Homo sapiens: one gene and its partners. The protein of the gene in region 2 interacts with the protein of the main gene of each other region in a pairwise test. Each region holds a gene or a part of one and is shown on either strand. Other genes may lie near its edges.

Region 1 (2,535 bases), on a different chromosome or scaffold from region 2:
ACTGGCTCGAGACCAGCCTGGGCAACTTGGCAAAACCCCGTCTCTACTAAAAATACAGAAATTAAGCAAGCATGGTGGCACATGCCTGTGGTCCCAGCTACTCAGGAGGCTGAGGTGGGAGGCTTGCTTGAACACAGGAGGGGGAGGCTGCAGTGAGCTGAGATCATGCCACTGCACTCAAGCATGGGCGACGGAGCGAGGCTGTCTCAAAAAGAAAAAACAAAAAGCAGACTTTACTTACTCTAAAGAGGATATAATGGAGTTCAGAATGTGACTTTCCAATCAGGGGAGCACCAAGCAAGAGCTGCAGGGGGCAACGTGAATGGAGGGCTTGGCCAGGAGGGCCTCCCACCACCACCTCAGCTCACCAGGCTGACGTGAAAACCCCAAGGAGATGCGTCATTTTTTGACCAACCGTGTAAAGTTGTGACTGGATGTCCTAAAACAAACTGCCACACAAGGACTAGGGCAGTGAGAGACATTTCAAGTTAAATGCTAAAGTTTCCTCAGATAAGGTCTTCCACATCACACAAGAAGCTATTGCACATCACTCCTTTATTATACTGATATGGAAAAAGGATTTAGTACAGTTATGCTCAGATGAACACTGGACCCATGTGGCAGGGTCAAGCAACTAGAACATGATTCAGAAATCAGTGAAAGATACACTTGGACAGGACCAAGAGGCATTTCACTGCCATGAAACAAGGCAGGAAGGGATTCTAATACACACACCAGGAAGCACTCCTGCCCCTCAGAGGTCAAGGAGCTGATCCTATATTGGTATGAGGAATGGCTTATTTTCTGATGACCACATGTGGGACTATTTCAACCGCCACAAGAAACCCCAGAAGGGTTATTGTTTTGTATTATATATACTATACTTTTTTAATAAAAGTAAATTAACACATAACGAAATTCAGGATTGATCCCAACCTAGAGCCAGATCCTCTGGGGTCAGGGAGGAAACAGTTGTCACATCACCACGCAGGTTACATTCGTCTTCCACTGGAATGACTAGAGCCCCCAGGCAGTAGGCAGTGACCTGACTGCAGAAGAGCAGAGGACAGACTCCGCTCATGGGGACAGACAGGCTCTGTTGCTTCTCCTCACTGGTCATGGCTTAGCATGGTTCCTCCCCAAAGTCCTTAGTAAACAAAGCACTCGCAAAAACCCAAGTCACTACTTTTAAACTCTGTTGGATAAGGGGAGCTTTTCCATAGCTTAGACTGAGAACCTGTGCTCTAGAACTGCTATTCTGACTAGATTGTATGAAGGGAGTGGGTGCAGGCGACAAAATGGCTAAAATGAAAATGGGAGCCACTGGTCCCCGTCTGCAGCTACAACTCAAGATGTCTACAGATGTGGTCAGTGTGACATGTGCAGGTGGGAGGGGCAGAGGGACAAGACGGGCAGGGAGGGTGCTCCTGGGGACAGTATCCTCCCCGCCGGCCTTCACTTCTTGGCCTTGCCCTGGGCAGCCACAGCTTCCATGGCTTTGCGCACCGTCTCTTCATCCCCCAGAAACTGCATGGGCTTGATAGGCTTCAAGTTCTTGTCCAATTCATAGACAATGGGAATACCAGTCGGCAGGTTCAGCTCCATGATAGCCTCTTCAGAGAGACCTGAAAACATCCACCATCATCAGCCACACAAGACATAAATCCACATCACCCCTCCAGGTTTACTTTGTCCTCCAGGTGATAAAGGACTTTGACAGAAATTAAAATAAGACACCCTTTCTGATCTTTATAGTAGTTCTGAACCCAGGGAATGGCCCCCACCATACTTATTTCTCAGCCATTAAACTGAAAAGCAAGAAAAGGTATACAAGATAGACCACCAACAAACTACAGCAAGGTATATGGCCAGATATCTCTACCAAAGTGGGATCTAGAAGCCCACAGTGAAGCAAGACTACACATCTCAAATACCCTGTACAGCCCATCCAACCAAAAATCAGCACACGTGGGCCTCTAGGCCCTCGGGGATGAAGATGCAAATTGAGATTCATGTGTAAAGTTGTGCCTGGTTGTGACTAAGGAGAATTTTTTCTTTTATATATATTTGTTTTCCTTTTTTTTTTTTTTAAGAGACAAGGTCTTACTCTCTCACCCAGGCTAGAATGTAGTGGCACAATCATACCTCACTATAACCTCAAACTGCTGGGCTCAAGCGATCTCCCGCCTCAGCCTCCTGAGTAGCTGGGACTACAGATGAGCATCACCACATCAAGCTAATTTTTCATTTTTCTTTTGTACAGACAAGGTCTTGCTTTGTTGCTCAGGCTGGTTTTGAACTCCTGGCCTCCCAAGGTGCTGATAGTACAGGCATGAACCACTGTGCTTGGCCTTTTAAAATTTTGTAGAGATGCAGTCTTACTATGTTGCCCAGGCTGTCTCAAACTCCTGGCCTCAAGTGGTCCTCCTGCCTTGGCCTCCCAAAATGTTGCAATTACAGGCATGAGCCACTGTGCTTGGCAAGCTAAGGAGGATTTTCACTAGCAGTTTCATTTGACAATACCAATCTAGAGGT
Region 2 (3,658 bases):
ACTCCCAAATCAAGAAAGGCTAGAAAAGAGGAAGGGGGTTTGGAATATACATGATATAAATCAACAGACAGTGGTTAAATAGATATCAAGAGGCTCTAGTTCTAGTCCTGGCTTTGCCACTATGCAGGTGTGTGTCCCATGAGCACATCATGTAACTCTCGTGGGCTTTAGTTTTCTTGTCTATAAAATGAGGGAGTTGGTCTAGATGCTCTCTAGAGTCCCTCTAGTACTTACATTTCGCAACTCTTAGAACATCAAGCCATTACATTTTTTCCTCAGCAAGAATATGCTGTCTTCCCAAGGATTTATGACAATTTACCCTCTGGGATAAGGAGGGAAAATTGAAGTTGTATACTTGAAATTCTCAGCTCCTGAAAATATGTGTCGCAGCCAGACAAACCTGTGACCCCTCTGTGGCTGAGTCAGTGGCTCCGTGTCTTGTGCGGTAGTGGTGAAGTGCTCCAGGAGTGAGGATCCCTGGGGCCCCTCGGGGCAGGAGCTGAGCAGTGAGCCTTTATGGAGCTGCACATCTGCAGTTTGTCACAGCCCTGACTTCTGGGACTTACTTGTCTACAACCAGTCCCCTGTGCACATTGGAGGCTTCACCTCTGATTGAGACTACATTTTTCAGAAGTTGGATAGAAACAAGAAAGGGGATTTAGCATGGTGGTTAGAAGGGACTAGTCTTGTTACAGTGAGAAAGATCCACTTCTTACTTGCTCAGATGGTTTGATTTGTCCTCAGAGAAGTTAAACAACTGACAGAGTTGCTCCTCTGAAAACATTTTGTATGAATACTTTAGGTTCATAGGGAACTCGTCAATCCATATCTCATAGAATAGAGGGACTTTTCATTCAAGTCTAATTTTTACATATAGACAATCTACCAGTGTTCAGAAATTGTGGCAGATTTCATGAGGAGAATTTTTTACTTGGATTTGTGCTCTTCTATAAAAAGTAATTTAAAAATTCAGTGATGAAAGTTTCTCCTAGACCCTGTTCTCTTCCTTTGTGGAGAAAAAAAATCCGTATAGAACTCTAGTATGTATTTATCTATAAAACAATTGTTTAAAAATATTGAGGTTAGCTCTTCCCCTTTGCTAATGCAATAAGCACATTATTTGCAAAGGGAAGCATTAATTATACTACTATTGTATGCAGTATTAAATGAATTGTCAATGTCACGATCAAAATAAACCCTTGAAGAACTGGCTGTTGTTCCCATACCTTCATGAGAATTGTAAACACTCATGTAAAATAGAAACCATTATTTACCACTTTGCAGTGAAATGGATCATGTGTTCTGACACCTGTACCCTGAGTTGAGTGGGAAACAGGGACTGTTTGATGAATTAAAGGTAACTTTATTCCTGTATACCACTAGGGGTGCAAGTGAGGGGACTGTAGACAATTAGTACTTTAGATATTTGTTGGAGTCCTGCTGTGTGTGCAGTATTGTGTTTCATTTTGCATACTTATTTAAAACGATACTACTTATTTGAAATGATTCATTTTAGTTCATTTTAACCAACATTTTTTAGTCCCCTACTCCATATCAGACTGATAGGCCTTATGGCCAAAAAGATGACTTCCTCCAGGGATACTTACTGTCTGTGTTAGATTCAGTAATGGGAGTCTCGGTCTTTAAGGAATCCATGATACATTTTTCAGTCTGGTTGGGAAAGATAAGACACATGAGGTAGAGAAGATTGTCCTAGAAATGTTGGTATATAAATAAGCATGTAACATTGTTTCATAAGTATTAAGGATGAGCTATAAAATAACTAGGTTGTAGCTCATACTTCTACTTGCTTAATTGTGTATTACATGATAAATTACCCGATTCTAGAGATATGCACTAACCACTCTCATTAGCTTTCTTTGGGAAAAGTCTGCACCAAAGATAAATAGTGATTTCAAAATAAGTTTTAATCATGAACTTGATTATTTTGGCTGTATCTCTTGAAACACTTTACCATATAGCCTATGTGAAATAATTAATCATAATGACAATACATGATTTATGAGAAACCATAATTTATGCTGTAAGACCTGCCATTTTATTACATTCTTATTTTTATTTTTCATGCAGCAGTATTTTCGTTTATTGTGTTTTGTGCTTTTCTTTTATTCTCTATGTAATTTGTGTGCCTTTATAAGCCCAAACTTGCTGTTGAAAATATTCCCTCCCATTGTTATGAATAAACAGAATGTTTCAAAATCTCTCGTGATGTATGCTAGAATAAATGGTCTCATTGAATCTTACTTTGAATCTCAGAATGATGCACTGATGGGAATTTTTCACTTACTGTCATTTTGTCGACAACTACATAAGCAGTAAGTCTGTTTAAAAAAGGCACTGACTAAGGAATCACAAAATCCAACTGGACTTCACAAGAACTATTAATACTATTAGTCTGAGACCTGTGATAAACAACTCAGATGTTAAAGGTCTAATTCAGACTGTCAACAGATGAAAAATAAGTGTCAGTCTGAAATCTTCGGATAGTATATCGGCAAGTGTCAGTCTTCCAAAATATTATTTAGAACTGTGAATATAATTTTTCACAGAAGCAACATTAATCCATAAATCTCCCGTCCTGTAGTGTAACTATAGTATATCAGTTCCATGGGAAAATAGTCCTGCTCTAAGCTACTCAACAGCAGGGACTTTATCTTTCTACAGGACTTAAATCTTGACCTCCAGTGGTTCTACATACCTTAAGTGAATGAATGAGTTTGAATTCTAGTTTTGAACACCTTCACCTGCTACTCTTGGATAATCGTGTCTGTTTGTGCCTAGTACCTATCCTCTGTCCTTTTGTAAACTGGTCTGAGACCCTGATACCATTTATCCTGCATGTTTCAAAGGAAAAAACTATTTAGACTTTAAAAAAATGCTTTTCTAATACAACTTGCTAGATAAATAATTCATTATACCAAATTCCTTAGTAAAGAAATTAACGGCTGGGTGCAGTGGCTCACACCTGTAATCCCAGCACTTTGGGAGGCTGAGGCAGGTGGATCACTTGAGATTAGGAGTTCAAGACCAGCCTGGACAACATGGTGAAACCCCATCTCTACTAAAAATACAAAAAAAAAAAAATTAGCCAGGCGTGGTGGCGGGCGCCTGTAGTCCCAGCTACTTGGGAGGCTGAGGTGAGAGAATCACGTGAACCCGTGAGGCAGAGGTTGCAGTGGGCAGAGATTGCACCACTGCACTCCAGCCTGGGTGACAGAGCGAAACTCCATTTCAAAAAGAAATTAATTAGAAGATTTTAAACAGATTGGTTCATATTCATTTTAAACTTAATTGCCTGGATTATAACCATAGTGAGATGAGTTTTCATAATGCTCTTTATCATACTACTAATAGGCACCAATCAAGCACCAAGACTAAGCTAAGCTTTGAAAGTGTGATATTGAGCAAACTTTCTGTATCTGTACCTTTTGTGAATCAGTAATATCTTTGTATACTCAGTTGAAGAGTTAAGACAGAAGTAGATATAATTTAAAGCACATGAAGTTTTTCAAAGGGGAAATGTTACAAAAATGCTAAGGGTTATTGGTACTATAAAATTACATAAATGTTAAGAGTAATGAAACAAAATTTCATAGCTTGTTTTGACCTAGTTGGTATAGTAAGTAAACCTTTGTTT
Region 3 (3,658 bases), on a different chromosome or scaffold from region 2:
CGCTGGAGCTGCTGCTGCTGAATCTGCTGTTGCTGCTGCTGCTGGAGCAGGCTGTGCTGCTGCTGGAGCTGGGCAAGCTGCTGCTGCTGGAGCTGGTGCTGCTGCAGCTGATGGAACTGCTGCTGCAGGGCATGCTGCTGCTGAAAGGGCTGGAGCTGCTGCTGAGGGCGATGCAGCTGCTGTGGAGGATGCAACTGTTGCTGTGGAAACTGTAGCTGTTGCTGTGAAAACTGATGCGGATGGGCTTGCTGCTGCTGCTGCTGTTGCTGTGAAAATGGATGCGGCGGCTGCTGGGGGTAAGGTTGCTGAGAGATCTGCTGCTGCTGCTGCTGCTGGAGCTGCATTATCTGCTGGGGCTGAAGGTGTAAAACCGGGTGCTGCTGCTGCTGCTGCTGGGCCTGCTGCTGCTGCTGTAGCATGTGTGTCTCTGGAGTCACTTTCACTTGGCTAAACAGCACTGCATTGGCATTTGTATGTCCCTGCTGGCTGTGATTCACCTGCTGTTCTAAATTTTTCGTAGGTGCTGAAAGAGTCTGTAAGATCTACAAAACAAAAGTTAGGTGAAACATTATCAACAGTTCCTGAAACAGATGAATGATAATTTCTTAGTCAAGAGAATGGCATATCCTATTTATTAACAATATTCAACTAAGTAGACACAGCAAATGATTGGAAACTGCAAAAACAATACTGCATTTTCTTTTGTATTTATTTTGTAACGCCAATATCGTAAAGTAAATTCATATATTGAGACCACCAAAATTTGAAACTACATCAGTAAAATGGAGTAAACTAACGAATTAAAGTGACAAAGACTCAGACGGCTGATGTGTTTGCCAGAGCAGGGCATGGGAGTCCTGTGCACACCTGGTAGCTAAGCCTTGGTGCTCCCTGCACCGTGCTGCGGCACCACTCCACTGCCCATCGCCTGCATCAGCTCCGCAGACCCTCTCCTGGCCCAGGAATGCACTGAGGAATGACAGGTGGTGAAGGCATCTGGTAATCGGGCTCAGCCTCACCTCAAACCTTCTCGCCACAGCTGCCACTTCCCATTTCCTCTTGTCTTACAGCCCAGAGTCTAGTAAACAAAGGTTCTCAGTGGATCACCTTCCAGATGAAAGCAGCATGACCCAAGCTGTGAGTCCAAGAGCCTTTCGCTCCACTGTCAACTTGCTATGTGCACTGGCATGCTATGGAAAAGGAGGCCAGCTAAGACACCACCGGGGCTGTTTAAATGGTGATGTTCCTCCCAACTAAGGACTCATCATTAGAGCTGGGAAATGATGCTTCCTCAAAAATGACTGAGTCTTCATGGGGGACACAAAAATATTTCAAGCTAGAAAAAAAGAATTCAAACCAGACTATTTGTCTTCTAGCTCTTTCTGCTTCACAATGACAGGGAATAAGCTGAGAGTTCTGTGTACGCTGAGGAGTAGGAGAAGGACGGTGACCAGCAGATGCCCACCAAGCAGAGTAAGTTATTTTTTTAATATCCTATAGGGCACTGAATACAACAAGAGATACACATTATACAATGAATTTTGTTCAACATGCTCAAGCAACAAAAATTTGAAACCAACTTCTTATGGTCATGGAAATCAGTAAAAATAGATTTTACTTAACTCAATCCATACAACTTTTAACCCTATTAAAAGCATTTAAAATTTAAATAAAATTCTAGGAATTTAACACATATCAGAACTATACCAAAATCTCAAACATATTCTAACATGTATCTTTCACTTAAACAGATTCCAAATTGCAAAGATTATATGACCTGCAAGGGTAACAGATTTTGGATTTAGTAATAAATAAGGGAGTTTAGAATTGAAATAAGTCAAAATCAAGAGCTTGGGCACACCCATCTCTAAAATCACCTTATGTATGAGACATCTCTATAAAAGGATTCAAGACTTCAGAAACACCTGAGTGGAACTCTAAGCAGAAAAATGTCTTTTAAACAAAATAATAAGACAACTGTTTCATCTCCATATTTAAAAGTATTTTTAAAAATCCAGAAAAGAAGATGGGACAATTCACCCCACAACATGCCACCCCATGGAGCCCAGCAGCATTTGGTGCTGTGCAAACACCCCCTAAGAAGCATGCACGTGTGGGGCACCTGCCTGCCTGGTGGGCACCAGCCATGAGCCCTACACGGCAAACTGCTGGAAACAGCGGCTGCCTCTTGAGAAGGTAAACAGCAGCGAGGGGTGGGAGGGGGGCTGAGAGTTTAACTGTTCACTCTGTCCTTTGGTATCATTTGAATTTTTGAATTTTGTACACATATTACTTTTTCACCCTCATATGTAAACAGCCCATGGAACTCTGAGGGATGGTAAAGAAATAAATGCCCGTCTGCAGGTGGACAGGGCTGAACTAGTCATTACCAAATGCTGCTCCCCGCCTCTCTGTACCTGCCAAGCCCAGGTGGAAGGGAGCTCAGGAACAGGCACAGGACCTAGACAAACACAGCAGCAGACATCAGGACAGCACAGAGGCCAGAGGCTCCTATTTTTCAGATTGGCCAAGAGGACTCAGCAGGGTCTGCTGCCTGCAGAAAGTGCTCCATCTGATCTCAGAGGGCTGAGGGAGGCCTAGGTAGGACAGGAGGCAACTTACAGCTGTTTCTACTACGGGCTTGAGTTAAGATGGGTCCTCATCCACTGCTGACCCAGCCCATCCACTGCTGACAGGAGGCAACTTAACAGCTGTTTCTACTACGGGCTTGAGTTAAGATGGGTCTTCATCCACTGCTGACCCACCCCATTAAGGGAGAAGAACAGATGGAGATTCAGGACAAGAGTCCCGGCTAGGAATGAAGATGGCCGTTGGCCTGGAACCTTCTCCACTTGAGGAAGCGAGAGGTGCAGGCCTGGATGGAGAGGAGAAATCTGCAAGGCCAGCCATCGAGATGCCTCCCAAAACCCCTACCACATTCATCCGATCACTTTTTCAACCATCTGATCTGCCTCTGGCTGGAAACATGTTAGTCCTGGAGAACGTAAGAAAAAGAATCTTAATTGCTCAATTACGTAATTGTGCTATACTACAAACAATTCTGAATGAATGTCAAGTTTAAATTTTTCCATCACAACTGTCATAATCCTCATTTACATTAATACTGAGTTACTGAATGCCATATATAGAAAGCAGTATGATACACATCACATGGCTTCTAACCACTATAAATTTGCAATTTAAACAGGATTTTGATGGTAAGTTACACTCCCCCCAACAATCTAATGTTCAACTAAATCTGTCTCATATTTCTAAAGTTTCAGTCATTTTCTTCACATCTAGAAGTAAAACGTCCTTATGTTCTCTTGCATTGCTGAAAGTCTCTCAGAAAATCTCCGCAATTCTTCTCACTAGTGATCAAATCCATTCACTCACTAGAAATGGATGGAGCCTTCTCAGTTTTCCACCGCTAGAGCACACAGCTGAGTATATCAAATTTGTCTCCTAAGGACAATTTCCAGTGCAGAGATGTGCCCAAACTCCCTACTGCAGTCAATTCTTTCCATTTCAAAGTAAATTATTTTGTCTCTATATCCAAATACAAACTTAAGGAACTTTATATTTAAACCAACATCCATTGTATTTGAAAAACATAATAAGGCCAGGCACGGTGGCTCACACCTATAATCCCAGCACT

Evidence for each region.
Region 1: the proteins of PKP4 (region 2) and PGAM1 interact in a two-hybrid assay, tested with the Homo sapiens proteins (one large-scale study listed by IntAct).
Region 3: the proteins of PKP4 (region 2) and PAXIP1 interact in a two-hybrid assay, tested with the Homo sapiens proteins (one large-scale study listed by BioGRID).

What each region holds. Positions count from the first base shown.
Region 1 is NC_000010.11:97,431,445-97,433,979, reverse strand, and holds the end of PGAM1 (phosphoglycerate mutase 1), read right to left. Parts: intron 1,626-2,535; coding exon 1,456-1,625; 3' UTR 536-1,455; downstream 1-535. UniProt on the Homo sapiens protein: Catalyzes the interconversion of 2-phosphoglycerate and 3-phosphoglyceratea crucial step in glycolysis, by using 2,3-bisphosphoglycerate. Also catalyzes the interconversion of (2R)-2,3-bisphosphoglycerate and (2R)-3-phospho-glyceroyl phosphate.
Region 2 is NC_000002.12:158,463,451-158,467,108, forward strand, and holds part of PKP4 (plakophilin-4), read left to right. Parts: intron 1-3,658. UniProt on the Homo sapiens protein: Plays a role as a regulator of Rho activity during cytokinesis. May play a role in junctional plaques.
Region 3 is NC_000007.14:154,968,585-154,972,242, forward strand, and holds part of PAXIP1 (PAX-interacting protein 1), read right to left. Parts: exon of another isoform or gene 2,623-3,658; intron 1,505-2,622; exon of another isoform or gene 1,470-1,504; intron 543-1,469; coding exon 1-542.